Linked DNA regions of Homo sapiens: region 2 is linked to region 1. Evidence: fine-mapped expression QTL. Tissue or cell type: sun-exposed skin. Region 1 holds a variant in brackets; the other region holds the start of a gene. All regions are shown on one strand. Distances are from middle to middle.

Region 1 (8,111 bases):
AGATGGCACAAAAATATCAAAGCATGTAGCCCAATCTCAGATATGATGATGAAAAAGTCCCCCCAAAACTTTAAATATATCAAATCCAGAGCATTAACAAATAACAGAATGTGATAATAAACTGTGATTTAGTAGGGTTTTCCCTCTGTGATGCAAGAATAGTTTGAAATAGGAAGTCCATTAATATAATTAACTATATAACAGATTCAAAGGGAAAAATATAATAAAATATATTTATTTCTATAAATATTAAAATATAAAATTTGCCATTCCTTCCTGATAAAAACACATGGCAAGAAAAGATAACTCGCTTACTATGATAAAAAAGACTTTTTACACAAATCAGCAACTACAAAAACAAATATTATGCCTGGTACTAAAACCTAGAGGCTTTCTCATTAAAGTGAAGAATAAGACAAAGAAACAGTAACACTATTCAGAATATTTCACTTCTTCTTCTTCCAGGCATCTTATAGATTGCACTATTCCACCCCTTTGACATTTACATTTGAGGTGGCTTGTTTTAGCCAATAGGTTGCAGCCAGAAATGCTGTGTTTCCTTTAAGGTCAGAGTAATTATTTCTGGCTGGAGACCGCTACTGCTCCCTATTCTGGTTATAGAAGCATGTGTGCAGAAGGAGTTTCCATGGCAGGAGTAAGTCCTTACTTAATAATAACATCGAATGTGAATGGACTAAACTCTCCAATTAAAAGACACAGAGACTGGCTGAATGGATGAGAAAACAAGACCCATTGATCTGTTGCCTACTAAACACACACACACACACACACTTCGCCTGTAAAGACATGTATAGACTGAAAATAAAGGGATGGAAAAATACTCCATGCCAATGGAAACCAAAAAAGAGGAGGAGTCGCTATACTTATATCAGACAAGATAGATTTCAAGACAAAAACTATAAGAAGAGATGAAGAAGGTCACTATGTAATGATAAAGTGGTCAATTCATCAAGAGGATATAAGAATTTTAAATATATATGCACCCAACACTGGAACACCTAGATATATAAAGGAAATGTTATTAGAGCTAAAGAGAGAGATAAGCTCCAATACAATAACAGATGGAGATTTCAACACCCCACTTCCAGCATTGGACAGATCTTCCAGACAGAAAGTCAACAAATATCAGTTTAATCTGCACTAGAGACCAAATGGACCTAATAGATATTTACACAACATTTTATCCAAGAGCTGCAGAATATGCATTGTTTTCTCCAGCACATGGATCATTCTCAAGACAGACCATAGGTAAGGTCATAAAACTAATCTTAAAACATTAAAAAATTGAAATAATATCAAGTGTCTTCTCTAACCACAATGGAATAAAACTAGAAATTAGTAACAAGAGGATTTTGAAAACTATACAAATACATGGAAATATAACAATATGCTCCCGAATGACCAGTGGATCAATGAAGAAATTAAGAAGGAAATTGGAAACTTTTTTGAAACAAATGATAATAGAAACACAACATACCAAAACCTATGGGATACAGCAAAAGCAGTATTAACAGGGAAGTTTACAGCTATAACTGCCTACACCAAAAAAGAGGAAAAACTTCAAATGAACAGTCTAATGATGCATCTTAAAGAATTAGAAAAGCAAGAGCAAACTAAACCCAAAATTAGTAGAAGAAATAGTAAAGATTAGTGTGGAAATAAATGAATTTGAAATGAAAAAGCAATGAAACAAAAAGTCGGTTTTTTGAAAACTTAAAGAAAATCGACAGACCTTTAGCCAGACTAAGAAAAAAAAAGACGATCAAAATAAATATAATCAGAAATAAAAAAGGAGATACTACAAATGATACCACAGAAATTCAAAGGATCATTAGTGGCTGCTATGAGAAACTATATGCCAACAAATTGGAAAATCTAGAAGAAATAGACAAAGTACTAGATGCATACAACCTACCAAGATTGAAGCAGGAAGAAATCCAAAACCCGAACAGACCAATAACAAGTAATGAGATTGAAGCCTTAATAAAAAGTCTTCCAGTAAAGAAAAACTGGAGACCTGATGGATTCACTGTTGAACTTTACCAAACATTTAAAGAAGAACTAATACTAATCCTACTCAAGTTATTCAGAAAAATGCAGGAGTGAGGGAATCCTTCCAAGCTCATTCTGCAAGGCCAGTATTACCTTAATACCAAAACCAGACAAAGACACATTAAAAAAAATAAAAAAGAAAAGAAAAGAAAACTACAGGGCAATGTTGCTGATGAATATTGATGCAGAAATCCTCAATAAAATACTAGAAAACCAAACTCAACAATACTTTAGAAAGATTATTCATCATGACAAAGTGGGATTTACCCCTGGGATGCAAGGACGGTTCAACATATGCAAATTAATAAATGTGATATCAACAGAATGAAGGATAAAAACCATATGATCATTTCAATTGATGCTGAAAAGGCATTTGATAAAATTAAACATCTCTTCATGATAAAAGTCCTCTAAAAACTTGGTATAGAAGGAACACCCTTCAACATAATAAACACCATATGTGACAGACCCACAGCTAGTATCATACTGAATGGGGAAAAACTGAAAGCCTTTCCTCTAAAATCCTGAACATGACAAGATGTCCACTGTCACCACTGTTATTCAACATAGTTCTGGAAGCCCTATCTAGGGCAATCTGACAAGAGAAAGATAGATATAAAGGGAGTCCAAATTGGAAAACAAGAAGTCAAATTATCCTTGTTCGCAGATGATATGATGTTATATTTGGAATAACCTAATGACTCCACCTAAACAAAGAAATAAAAAAGTAATCCCAATTACAACAGCCACACATAAAATTAAATACCTAGGAGTTAACCAAAGAAATGAAAGATCTCTGTAATGAAAACTATAAAACACTAAAGAAAAAATTGAAGAGGACAACAAAAAATTGAAAAATATTTCATGTTCCTGAATTGGAAGAATCAATATTGTTAAAATGTCCATACTACCCAAAGCAGTTTACAGATTTAATGCCATCCCTATCAAAGTACCAATGACATTATTCACAGAAATAGAAAAAAATCCTAAAATTTACATAGAACCACGAAAGACCCAGAATAGCCAAAGCTATCCTACACAGAAACAACAAAACAGGAGGAATCACATTATCTGACTTCAAAATATACTACAGAGATATGGTAACCAAAATAGCATGGTATTGGCGTAACAAAAGACATATAGACCAATGGAACAGAATAGAGAACCCAGAAATAAATCCACACACCTACAGTGAACTCATTTTTGTCAAAGGTGCCAAGAACATACACTGGGAAAAAGATAGTATCTTCAGTAAATGATTTTGGGAAAACTGGATATCCATATGCCAAAGAATGAAACTAGACCTCTATCTTTCCATATACAAAAATCAAATCAAAATGGATTAAATGCTTATAAATATAAGACTTCAAACTATGAAACTACTATGGGAAAACATTGGGGGATATCTCCTAGACATTGGTCTGGGCAAAGATTTCTTAAGCAATGCCCCACAAACACAGGGAGCTAAAGCAAAATTAGACAAATGGGATCATATCAAGTTAAAAATCTTCTGTACAGCAAAGGATACAATTAATAAAAAGACAACCACAGAATGGGAGAAAATATTTGCAAACTACCCATCTGACAAGGAATAATAATCAGAATCTGTAAGGAGCTCAAACAACTATATGGGAAAAATTTAATCACCCAATAAAAAATGAGCAAAAGGCATATGAAAAACTGCTCAGCAGCACTGACCATCAGAGAAATGCAAATCAAAACTATAATGAGAAATCATCTCACCTGAGTTAAAATGGCTTATATCCAAAAGACAGGCAATAACAAATGCTGGTGAGGATGTGGAGAAAAGGGAACCATTGTACACTGTTGGTGAGAATGTAAATTAGTACAACCACTATGGAGAACAGTTTGGAGGTTCCTCAAAACACTAAAAATGGAGCTATCATATGATCCAGCAATCCCATTACTGGGTATATACCCAAAAGAAAGGAAATTAGTATATTGAAGAGATATCTCCACTCTTATGTTTGTTGCAGCACTGTTTACAATAGCTAATATTTGGAAGCAACCGAAGTGTCCATCAATAGGTGAATGGATAAAGAAAATGTGGTACATATGCACAATGGAGTACTGTTTAGCCATAGAAAGAATGAGATCTAATCATCTGCAGCAACATGAATGGAACTGGAGGTGATTATGTTAAGTAAAATAAACCAGGCACAGAAAGACAAACATCACATGTTCTCACTTATTTGTGGGATCTAAAAATCAAATCAATTTAACTCATGGACATAAAGAGTAGAAGGATGGTTATCAGAGGCTAGGAAGGGTAGTGGGAGGTTGGGCCGGGGGTAGGTAGGGATGGTTAACGGGTACAAAAAATAGAAAGAATTAATAAGATCTAGTATTTGATAGCACAGAAGGGTGAATATAGTCAACAATAACAACTGTACATTTTAAAAATAACTTAAAGTGTATAACTGGATTATTTGTAACTCAAAGGATAAATGCTTCGGGGATGGGTATTTTATTCTCCATGAAGTGCTTATTTCACATTGCATGCCTGCATCAAAACATCTCATGTACCTCATAAATATATATGCTTAGTATGTACCCACAAAAATTAAAAAATATTTAACTCTATATAACATGGAAGAAAGGAAATAAAGAAGAAAGAGAGAGAGAAAGGAAGGGATAAGGGAAGTTAGAGCACTATTAAAACTTTGCTAAGGGCTGGCAAGGCTGTGGAGAAATAGGAAGTTTTTACACC[G/A]TTGGTGGGAGTGTAAATTAGTTCAACCATTGTGGAAGACAGTGTGGCAATTCCTCAAGGATCTAGAACCAGGAATACCATTTGACCTAGCAATCCCATTACTGGGTATATACCCACAAAGGATTATAAATCATTCTACTATAAAGACACACACACACATATGCTTACTGCAGCACTATTTACAATAGCAAAGACTTGGAACCAACCCAAATGCCCATCAATGATAGACTGGATAAAGAAAACGTGGCACATATACATCATGGAATACTATGCAGCCATAAAAAAGAATGAGTTCATGTCCTTTTCAGGGACATAGATGAAGCTGGAAACCATCATTCTTAGCAAACTAACACAGGAACAGAAAACCAAACACTGCATGTTCTCACTCATAAGTGGGAGTTGGACAATGAGAACACATGGACACAGAGAGGGGACCATCACACACTGGGGCCTGTTGGGGGGTGGGGGCAAGGGGAGGGAGGGCATTAGGACAAATACCTAATGCATATGGGGCTTAAAACCTAGATGATGGGTTAAGTGCAGCAAACAACCATGGCACATGTATACCTATGTAACAAACCTGCACATTCTGCACATGTATCCCAAAACTTAAAGTAAAAACAAACAAAACAACAACAACAAAAAAAAACCTTTGCTAAGGAACAAAATAAATAAATGGACAGACGTGCCTATTCCTAGCTAGGATCTGGTGAGGTAAATTTCTCTCCAAATTATTCAGTATAGTATGTAATTCTGCAATGACAGAACAGACAATGGCTAGTTTGTGCTAAACATGATGAGAGTAAAGGGATGATAAGAAGTATTAACTTAAAAATCACTATGTATAACAATGTATAAATTTAGAAAAAGAGAGATTTATTTCCTTTTTTTCTTTTTTGGTTCCTCATCATTCAGTTGGATGAGCTTATGAGCTTTATTTCTTAAGAAGGAGATTACAACCTCCAGGCAGGAAGCACAACCACCATCTAAAAAAAGCACTTTGAGGCAGAGGCGGATGGAACAGGGATTCCTTTTGAATGGGTTGGCCAAGTATACATATTCAACAGGTTACAGGAGGAGCTATTAATATTCATGAAGGTGGTCCTCATGCATATTACACACCACCCATGTTCACTTAGGGGTGGAAGATTAACATTTAAATGTATTACAGCTAGGCCAAAAGGTGAAGCAGGGACACGAAGGCATTCCAGTGTGCAGTCTCTGTAAAACCCACCAGAACCAGTTCATAATAAGTGATCTCTCATCAGAAGAAAGTTACAGAAATCAGTCTGTTGTCCAATCAAGGCTCGTGGAACAGGGTGTCAGTTAGTGAGCATCTGGTGGTGAGTTGCAATTGTTTTAATATTGTTTATTTCAAGGCCAGTGCTTGTTTAGCTTCTAGAGAAAAAGAAAAACCTTGTAGCACTTTGCACGTAGTTTATTCTTTAACTGTAGGGTGTATGATTTAATCTTTCTCTGGCATGGCCTTAGGTCCTATTTATAATCTGGTATCTTATTTCCACAAAAAGTCCATTCTGTCAGTCATATGATATCTATTTTGACATTACTGCTGGTCAGTTGTGTCTAAACCACAAAAGGAGGCGGGTGTAACAAGGGGTGTCGGGCCTCCCATCCTGTCATGGCTGGGAACTAAATTTGTAAGGTTTCTCCGGAGTCCCCTTGGCCAAGGGGGCAGGGTCCATCCAGTCAGTTTGAGGGACTTAGGATTTTATTTTTAGTTTATAGAAGCAAGAGGATTTCTGAAGAATGTAATTATTTAACTGCAAAGCTGGGGAGAAGTAGCAAGAAAGCATTCTCTGAAAAGACGTGTCAAAAAAAAGGCCACTTTTTTCTAGAACTGTTGCTAATCATTGTGAGCTGTGTTGTTTGAGTGAGAGAAGGCATACCGATCACAGAAAGACTATATTTGTCCCTTCCACTCTCCTCCCTACAGTTGACTGAATGTTAGTAACAAAGTGACTCTGGAAGATCTGTTCCCACCATTCTGCATTTCTCCTGCAATCTTGTGGTGGATCTTGGAGAGTCACTCTTACTTAACACAGAGGCAATGGGGTTGGTAACAGGTGAAACAAGCAAATAAATTTTTTTTTGAAAAAGTATAACATGAGAGGACTTACCTACTAGGTATGAAAACACACTATAAAGCTTTATTACTATTATTGTTTTTAATGACATTTATTGAAGGCTTACTGTGTGCTGGACACTGTGCTATGTTTTACATACCTGATGTCATTTAATTATCTTCCAAACCTTATGAAGTAGATAGCATTTTTAAGACCTAATACTTAGAGGAAGAAACTGAGGCCTAGAAAAGATACATTTGCAAAAAATTAAATAGCCAGTAAACAATGAAAATATAATTCTAATCTAGACATTATAACTCTAAAGCCATTTTTATCATTACTATCAATATAGTTTTGACTACATAAAAGAGGAACAGTAGAACAGAGAAGAGTTTAAAAACAAAATAGCCATATCTATGGGATTTCACCATATGATAAAATTGACATTTACATCAATTTAATAATTATTGCTAGACAATTGGCTATTCACTGAAAAGTAACTATTATCTCTCATACCAGAAAAAGTTATAATTCAGAAATTTAAAAAAAATTAATATAAAAAGGTAGAAATAGTACTAAAAAAATATAGAACATACAGCATCTGGTGGCCATAAAAAATAAGTCAGGGACCAGGTAGGTAAAGGTTGCAGTGAGCTGTGATCAAGTTACTGCACTCTAGCCTAGGTGACAGAGTGAGACCCTGTCTCAAAAAAAAAAAAAAACCCAAAGCACCAAATTAGTGAGGGTTGGTACATGAGTGGAAGCCTATTTGCTACTTCTCCACAAAAACTGAGAATGAGTGAAAAGAAAAAGTTTTAAATTAAGAAGTTTCAAACTTTGGCTGGAGACTGTTAAAACATTCTCCAAGAAGTATGAGGAGAAGGAAATATTTATTTTCCAATGCAAATTCAATCATTTCTTTTATTATTGACCTTGTTCGATACATATGGATAAAAAAAATCCTGCATTGGTTAGAATCAAAGGACACAGTCCCTGAATGACATAATATAAGAAAAATAGGCTGGGCATGGTGGCTTATTCCTGTAATTCCAACACTTTGGGAGGCCGAGGCAGGTGGATCACAAGGTCAGGAGTTCGGGACCCACCTGGTCAACATAGTAAAACCCCGTCTCTACTAAAAATACAAAAAATTAGCCAGGCATGGTAGCTGGCAGCTGTAATCCCAGCTACTTGGGAGGCTGAGACAGGAGAATCGCTTGAAC
Region 2 (8,111 bases), 98 kb before region 1:
AGCCTTATTCATTAATAACTAGAAGCTGCCAACAACCTAAATATCTATCAACAGGAGCACTAATAAGCAAATTGTGGTATATTTACACAATGAAATACTACTATATAGTAGGCTGTTCTTACGTTGCTATAAAGAAATACCTGAGGCTGGGTAATTTATAAAGAAAAGAGGTTTAATTGGCTCATAGTTCTATAGGCTGTACAAGCATTGCACCAACATCTGCTGGGGTTCTGTGAGGGCTTCAAGAAGCTTATAATTATGGCTTACAAGAAGGTTAAGGGGAGCAACCACATCACATGATGAGAGCAGCAGCAAGAGTTGGGATTGGAGAGGTGCAACACACTTTTAAACAACAGGTCTCACATGAATTCAGACCAAAACTCACTTATCATCAAGGGGATGGTACTAAACCATTCATGAGGGATATGCCCCCATGATCTGACACTTCCAACATCAGACCCCACCTCCAACACTGGGGATTACATTTCAACATGAGATTTGGAGAGGACAAACATGCAAACTATATCAACTACTCAGCCAAAAAAAAAAAAAAAAAAAAAAACTACTAAACTATGCAACAACATGGATGAATCTCAATCTCAAAAAAAAAGAACAAACTACTAAAATATGCAACAACATGGATGAATCTCAATCTCTCTCTCTCGCTATATATATATATATATATTCATTCAAATATGTGGGTGTGTATATATATGTATATACACATATATACATATATACACACACACATGCCTATTTGAATGAAAGAAGTCAGACAAAAAGGAATATATATTGTGTGATTCCATTTATATGAACACCAAGAATAGGCAATATTAACCTCTAGTCATATAAATTAGAAAGTAGTAGTCTCTCTGTGTGTGGGCTAGGGGAGGATGGAGAGGCATGAGGGTAGTTTTGGTGAACTGACAAGCTACAGACAGATACAAATAAACACTTTGGACTGACATAAATGTTCTAAATTTTGTTTTAGGTATTATTTTCATGAGTGCATATAATTATATAATTGGCAAAAGTCATACTCTGAACATTTAATACATATGTACTTTATTGAATATAAATTATACAACCATTTAAAAGTGGCCTATAATCCTCAGGAATTAAGTAGTCACTGAAGGCATACCTTTGTTGGGAATGGCAGGAATGAAGAATACAAAGATTGTGGGGTGATTTTTCTATTTATGACTGTACTAGGATGCTTAAAGAAAAATGTGATAAGCTCAGAGGCCCAGAGAACTTCTATGATTACCTTAAAACTTTATTAATTGCTGGGATGACACATCCAAATCAAGTATTAATGCTGTGAAGAGCTAAATTACAAGGTAAGTTGAATAAACAGACTCCTCAGGTCTCTTATGTAAGAAATTAAGGCATTGATTGGGAAGGAGTTGGATCTTTAGAGTTGTGATAGAGAGGTTGGGTGAATTCGGATAGCTCTATTATCTTAATACGCAGACACTACAGAGCTTTTTGCTTTCTGAAGAACTCCTCCCTTCCTATCTATAGGGCTGGTCTTGTACTCCTTGAAAATTCTGAAGTAACTTAATCTGAGGAATTTACCTTGTGAATCAATTGAGAAGAACTGATTGTTCTCAGAACTCAACTGTTATCAGTTCTTTATACCTCTAGACTACATCACCTAGTAGAAATATAATGTGAGCCACATACGTAATTTAAAATCTTCTACTAGCTACTCTTAAAATAGTGAAAAAGAAATAGTTGTGGTTAAATTTTGGTAATATATTTTATTTAACTCAACATAAACAAAATATCATTTCTGGTGGCATTGGTGGTATAGTGGTGAGTATAGCTGCCTTCCAAAATATCATTTCGACATAATCAGTATGAAAATCAAGATATTTTATGTTCTTTTTCATATGCAAAATGTGTGTATTTTGCATTTACAACATGTCTCAATTCAGAATCATCACATTTCAAATGTTTGAAATAGCTATAGGTGGCTGGTGGCCTTTGTATTCTCCATATTGGACCGGGGTTTCTTAATGTCAGCACTGTTGACATTTTGTTGTGGAGGATGTCCCGTGCATTGCAGATGTTTAACAGCATCTCTAGCCTCTACTCACTAGATGCCAGTAGGACACTTGCCCTTCCTCTTTGGCTGTGGCAAAAAAAATGTCAAGAACCACTGGTCTAGATCTAAAGTTAGATCCCAACATGTTCCAGGGTATAATAAAAGATCTGACCTGGGAGAAGGGTTTCATACCAAAAAAGTGCAAGATTTTGCTTATTTATATTGGCAGAAGACTATAGAAAATGATAATGAATTCCAAGTGTGGCAGACCAGGGATGAAGGAATATTTTTGATGAGACCAAGATATTAATATGAATACATTTACCAGAGACCATAATTCACTGTTCTTGCTTTGAACATCTAGGAGTGGCTGTCAAGGTTTGCTCAGTTGGTTGATTGAAACTAAATAAAGTTGAGATGTTAGAAATCTCTTGATTTTAGAGGATTGAATTAAAAGACTTAGGGAAAGGGGTAACGAAGAGAGGTTGATTAATGAGTGCAGACATACAGTTAGATAGAAGAAATAAGACCCAGTGTTTGACAGATAAGTAGGGTGACTATAGTTAACTATAATCTATTGTATATTTCAAAATAACTAGAAGAGAACAATTTGAATGTTCATAGCATAAAGATAAATATTTAAGGTGATGGATATCCTGACTATCTTGATTTGATCTTTACACATTACACATTCATATAAATGTATCCAATTATCACATGTACCCTGAAAATATGTACATCTAGTATGTATCAATTTTTAAAGAAGACTTAGGGAATAGTACTGTATGAATGGATTTATCATATGTTACCCAGTCATCTCCTTTCAAAGGTGTTCTGAGAGGGCCAAAGGACCTTCTTTTTACTAAAGCATTGAGAAAATATAGGGAATGCCAGAATCCTTTAAAAGCTCTGTAGCTGCTATTCTATAAGCCTGGGGATAAAGATGCTGCCATTGCATGAAATCCCTAATTCCCTAATGGAAATAGTAAGATCCCAAAGTGATAGAGGCCAAGTGATACCACTGAGCCATCAGAGATGAGATATCTGTTGATACCATGATACCAGCAGGGTGTATCATATTGTTTGACTAAGGGGGATCTTTAGGAGTTGATAATTAATCACTGCCCCTATAATTGAAATGGATAGTCTGCTAAGATTCTACTTAATTTGTACAGCAAAAAATTTACCAGAACTAATGAAGAGACCTGAATGTCATAACCTTAAAGGAGATTTACAGCATCTTGACATTGGCTTTTTGACTCATGGCTATTATAATAGGAAGACAAAGTGGAAGCCTTTGGAACTGCCCTTATCTACTAAAAGATTAAACCAAAGGCAATACCATAGTCCTAGGGGAATTCCAGTGATTAGTGGCACTATTAAAGAGTGCAAAGATGTAAAGGTGGTGATTCTCCATCACACTTTCATTTAACCTTCTGTTTGTCCTCTGCAAACAGGTTATCTAAAATGTTGCTTTTTAATTTTGAAGTATTATTTGTATTCAAGTATCTTTATTCTATTTCATTGCCTGCTATTTTTACATTCTAGTCCCCATTTGTTGCCATGAAGATAGAAATCACAATTTCTACCCAACACTGTAGTGTTGCATCCTGCACACAAACGTACTTTAGTGAGCTCATATGTTTATGTTTATGTATCATCTATGGCTTTTCTTGGTAAGACAATGGCAGAGTTAAATAGTATCACAGAGACCATATGACCTGCAAAACCTATTAATAAAATATTATCTGGCTGTATGAGCACATTTTCATACTGCTATAAAGAATTGCCTGAGACTGGGTAATTTATAAAGGAAAGGGGTTTAATTGACTCACAGTTCAGCGTCGCTGGGGAGGCCTCAGGAAACTTACAATCATGACGGAAGGTGAAGGGGAAGCAGGACACCTTCTTCGTTAAGGAGAAGTGCCCAGTGGAGGGGAAAGAGCCCCTTACAAAACCATCAGATAGCTTGAGAACTCACTAGCATGGGGGTAAACGGCCCCCATGATTCCATTACCTTCATCTGGTCTCTCTCTTGACACGTGGGGATTATGGAACTGCCCCCATGATTCAATTACCTTCACCTGGTTTCTCTCTTGACACGTGGGGATTATGGGGATTACAATTCAAGATGGGATGTGGTCGGGGACTCAGAGCCTAACCATATCACTGGCCCTTTACTAAAAAATTTACTAATTCTGTCTCCCGCTTTAAATTATGAAAGGGACAATTACAGTACTGGTGGAAAAACATTGCTGGAGTGCTTTAGTGAAACCAATTATTTAGGTAGCAGCATGCCACGGTTATGGCTTAGTTGACAGTTACTCTACTTGTGAACTTCATAGGTTGGTGTACGATTCTTAACATGAATATTAAGTAGAGGCATTGAATGAAGATATTTTTCCAATTAAAATCTTGCTTTGCTTCTTCAGGACTTTATAAACCAGACCAGCTGGCTGTGGCACAGATACGAAAGACTTTGAGACCCTGAAGGCACCTTGCAGAACATCCTCAGGCTTCCTCATTTAACAGGAAAAAACCTGAGGCCCAGGGAGGCATCTCAGCTAAAAATACTACTATACATTTAAAAGGAGGTTTCTTCCGGTCGCAGTTGCCTTCACGTTTTCAAATCTTCTCTTTAAAAAGCAAAAGCAGGGCACAACCAGGCCAAGCGCCAGAAAACTCGGAATTGGCTTTATTTCCTTTTTTTCTAGTTGGGCTCGGTTATGATTTTCGGTAACGTACACAAATGCTGTCCTTGTCCATAAACAAACGCTTAAAAAAAAATGTTTACCCGAGAAACAAGGATAGACACGAAGCTGCCCTCCCTGCCCCGTTCCTCACCCTCTCCAATAGCTATAGGCGCTGCCCGCCGTCCCTAACCCGGACCAATCGGCAGCCTGCTGCGGGCCTGACGGGAGGGGTGGGGCCGCCGTTGCCAGAGAAGCCACTAGCCGGTTACTAGCTGCGCTTTTGTTCCACTTGAGCGGGCACTCTTCTGCGGCAAGCAGGTCTAGGAATTCGCCTGGTTCCCACCTCGCGTCCCTTGCCTTCCTTCCTAGTCTACCCACTGTAGTGCCCCCTGCGTCCCGCTCCCTCCTAGCCGACTCAGAGCACAAGAAGGATTGCCACGGTTTCCATTGCAGCAGCCGTGGCGCCTCTGACCCTTTTTTTATATCGCGGCGACGGCGGGCTGTCGTCACGACGACGTGCGGACGCAGCGGCGGGGGCGTAAGTACGCCTTTTGGGTTGGGGGCGACTTTGTGGGGAGCCTAGCTGCTGCTGGGCGTTTACCGCGGGAGCCCTTAGCGGTCTGGAGGTGAGGGCAGTGGTGGGTCCCGGAAGTAAAAGGCCCTCGCGCCCACCCAGCCCCCTCCGCGCAAACCCTCCACCTCCCTCAGGCTGACTACCTGGCCTGGGAAAAGGGCGGCGAGACTCACTCTTAGGAAGGGTGTGGTCCCCGGGACATCAGGGCAAATGTTAGCGTGAGGTGGGCTTGTGCAGAACGAAGTCCTGACCGGGCCGTTCCTGGATATGGTTGCATTTCTTTCAGAAATAGTGACCTCTTAATCATTGGGCTGGTTTTTAATCGCCCATCATGTGATATATCAGATTGTAGGAAGCCCTGGGGGCTTCGTAAGTGAGGTATATTACAGGAATCCTCAGGAAATAATTCCTTCTCCAGGATTCCTCTAGGTTCCAGCCCCTATAGGCGACCCCTGTAGTGCGGGATTGACCTAGGGTCGTGGAGAGTGCTAAAGGCCGACTTGTGTTCAGTCCCAGCTCTGCCACTGAACCCGCTGTGTGGCCTTGTCTAGGTCACTGAACCTTCCTGGATTCCTTACTGATAACTGTAACAGTAATCATCACTTTGGGGTGGTTGTAATACGAGATTAAGTAAACGCAGGGCCATTAAGGTGGCACCGAATGTAGGTGGTTAGTGAGTGGTGGTGCTTGTTGTTTACTGAGAATAACCATACTGGGGCTGCTGTTGGGGATAAAATCTATTTCGAAGACAGTTTCCTCATCACGCAACGCATAGTACGGTTTCAAGTGTTTTTGAATGAATGAGGTTCTTGGAGTTTTAAGTGCAACTGAGTTAAGGTTAAAGAAACAAACCGGGCCGGGCGCGGTGGCTCACGCCTGTAATCCCAGCACTTTGGGAGGCCGAGGCGGGCGGATCACGAGGTTAGGAGATCGAGACCATCCTGGCCAACACGGTGAAACCCCGTCTCTACTAAAACAAATACAAAAAGTTATCCGGGCGTGGTGGCGGGCGCCCGTAGTCCCAGCTACTCGGGAGGCTGAGGCAGGAGAATGGCGTGAACCCAGGAGGCGGAGCTTGCCGTGAGCCGAGATCGCGCCACTGCACTCCAGCCTGGGCGACAGCGCGAGACTCTGTCTCAAAAAAAAAAAAAAAAAAGGAAAAAGAAACAAACTGCAGAAAACCTGTCTGCTTTTGAAATTAGTTTGATATTCTGCTTATAGTAAGAATGTCATGATCATGTTTATGATTTGCTTTTTGCTTCTCTTTTTCATCTTCTTATTTCACAATGGATGTGTATTTATAGTGTAGTTTTTCTATCCCAAAAGTTCCTTGTGACAAACTTTAGAACAATGGAATTTAGTGATCTGGTCGCGGTCTGCTCTCTCTCTTTAGAATTGTAGTCTGTGCTTTTAGCTAGCTCATTCATCACTCATTTCCTTGTCCAGAACAGTTTTCATCTTTTGAATCTAAATTGAACTTATGAGTATTAAAACCTGACTGAATAAAGGCAAGTTTGTGTGTTACTTTTTGCTTTGTAGATTTTTATATTTATGTTTTAGTATCTCATGGCTTTTTTTTTTTTTTGAGATGGAGTCTCGCTCTGCCGCAGTGGAGTGCAGTGGCGCGATCTCGGCTCACTGCAACGTCCGCCTCCCGGGTTCAAGTGATTCTCCTGCCTCAGCCTCTCGAGTAGCTGGGACTACAGGTGCCCACCACCACGCCTAGCTAATTTTTGTATTTTTAGTAGAGATGCGGTTTCACCATCTCATGGCTTTTAATTCAAAACTGAGTTCCACCAATTCCTTACTTGTAATCTTGGACAAGCTATTTAACCCTTCTAAGATTTAATTTACTTATTTATAGCTTTTTAATAACAACCTTGTGAAGCTTTTGTGAGATGATGTTTATAAGGTCAGTCAGTGCTCTGCTCAGTAAATGGCAACAGCTGTCGTGTTGAAGGAAAGGAATATGCTTTATGTTTGTCTGGTACAGGATGGTGACTTTATTTGGGATTAGACAATATTCTGAACATCTTTGGCCAGGTCTTTTTCCGGGTAATTGGGCTCTATATGGACACTCAAAAGTGTCCGAGTTTAAACAGTAAATAATTTAGTCACCCTAACTTATATTTGAGAACCTAATCTATGCTCCCCACTGTGTTAGGTAATTTTTTAGGGCAGAGAGTGATGCGTATTATTTGTCCTCACAGTTAATAGCAAGTTTAAAAGAGAACTAAAATATGAGCATTTATGGAGCAGTTAAATTCTAAACTATATGATTCTGAAAATACTTTTGTTTAGAGTTCTTGATGGGCTGGAGAAATCAGGGCAACACTTTGAGAAGGAAATGGAATGTTGGCTTTGAAGTACATGCCGTGTTTACAGAACAGTCACTCTTGCTGTCAACTCTTCTTCCTATATTATCCAGTCTGCAGCCCATCTTTTAAATATACATCCTTCTTTTTTCATTGGAGAGAGGGATTACTAATTTGTTATCTAATCTAATCTCTCTGTATCAGAAAACGTTTTTTCCATTTTGGTAGCTTTTACGCATAAGATTTATTTTCCAGCTTTTTGCCTGTTTCCAAGATTCCTATCCTTTTTTTTTTTTTCATACAATTACCTCTCTAGTAAACGTTTGACTAGTGTCCAGAATAGTAGGGGGAAAAAAAGAGGATTCCTGTATCTACTTTGTGTTCCTTGCTGAATATGCCATGGTGACTTTTTTCAGTAGAAGCTGTGTTTGAAGCCAGTGGAAGTTAGTTTTCTAAGAATTTGTGTTTGGCAAAACAAA

What was found. PIP is the estimated chance that this variant, and not a neighbour inherited with it, causes the effect.
Region 2: it holds the start of ODF2L, and the variant in region 1 is fine-mapped to the expression of ODF2L in sun-exposed skin (GTEx, PIP 0.96).

Annotation. Positions count from the first base shown.
Region 1 is chr1:86,294,772-86,302,882 of GRCh38, reverse strand. All of the region lies in intron 3 of LINC02795 (long intergenic non-protein coding RNA 2795), which reads left to right. Among named protein-coding and RNA genes, the nearest start is that of LINC02795, 21 kb to the left of the region's middle. The variant G/A (reference allele first, on the strand shown) is at 4,805.
Region 2 is chr1:86,393,203-86,401,313 of GRCh38, reverse strand. ODF2L (outer dense fiber of sperm tails 2 like) reads left to right here and starts at 4,991. Exons shown (of 17, transcript NM_001366781.1): 1 at 4,991-5,281. RefSeq lists an enhancer at 5,017-5,066.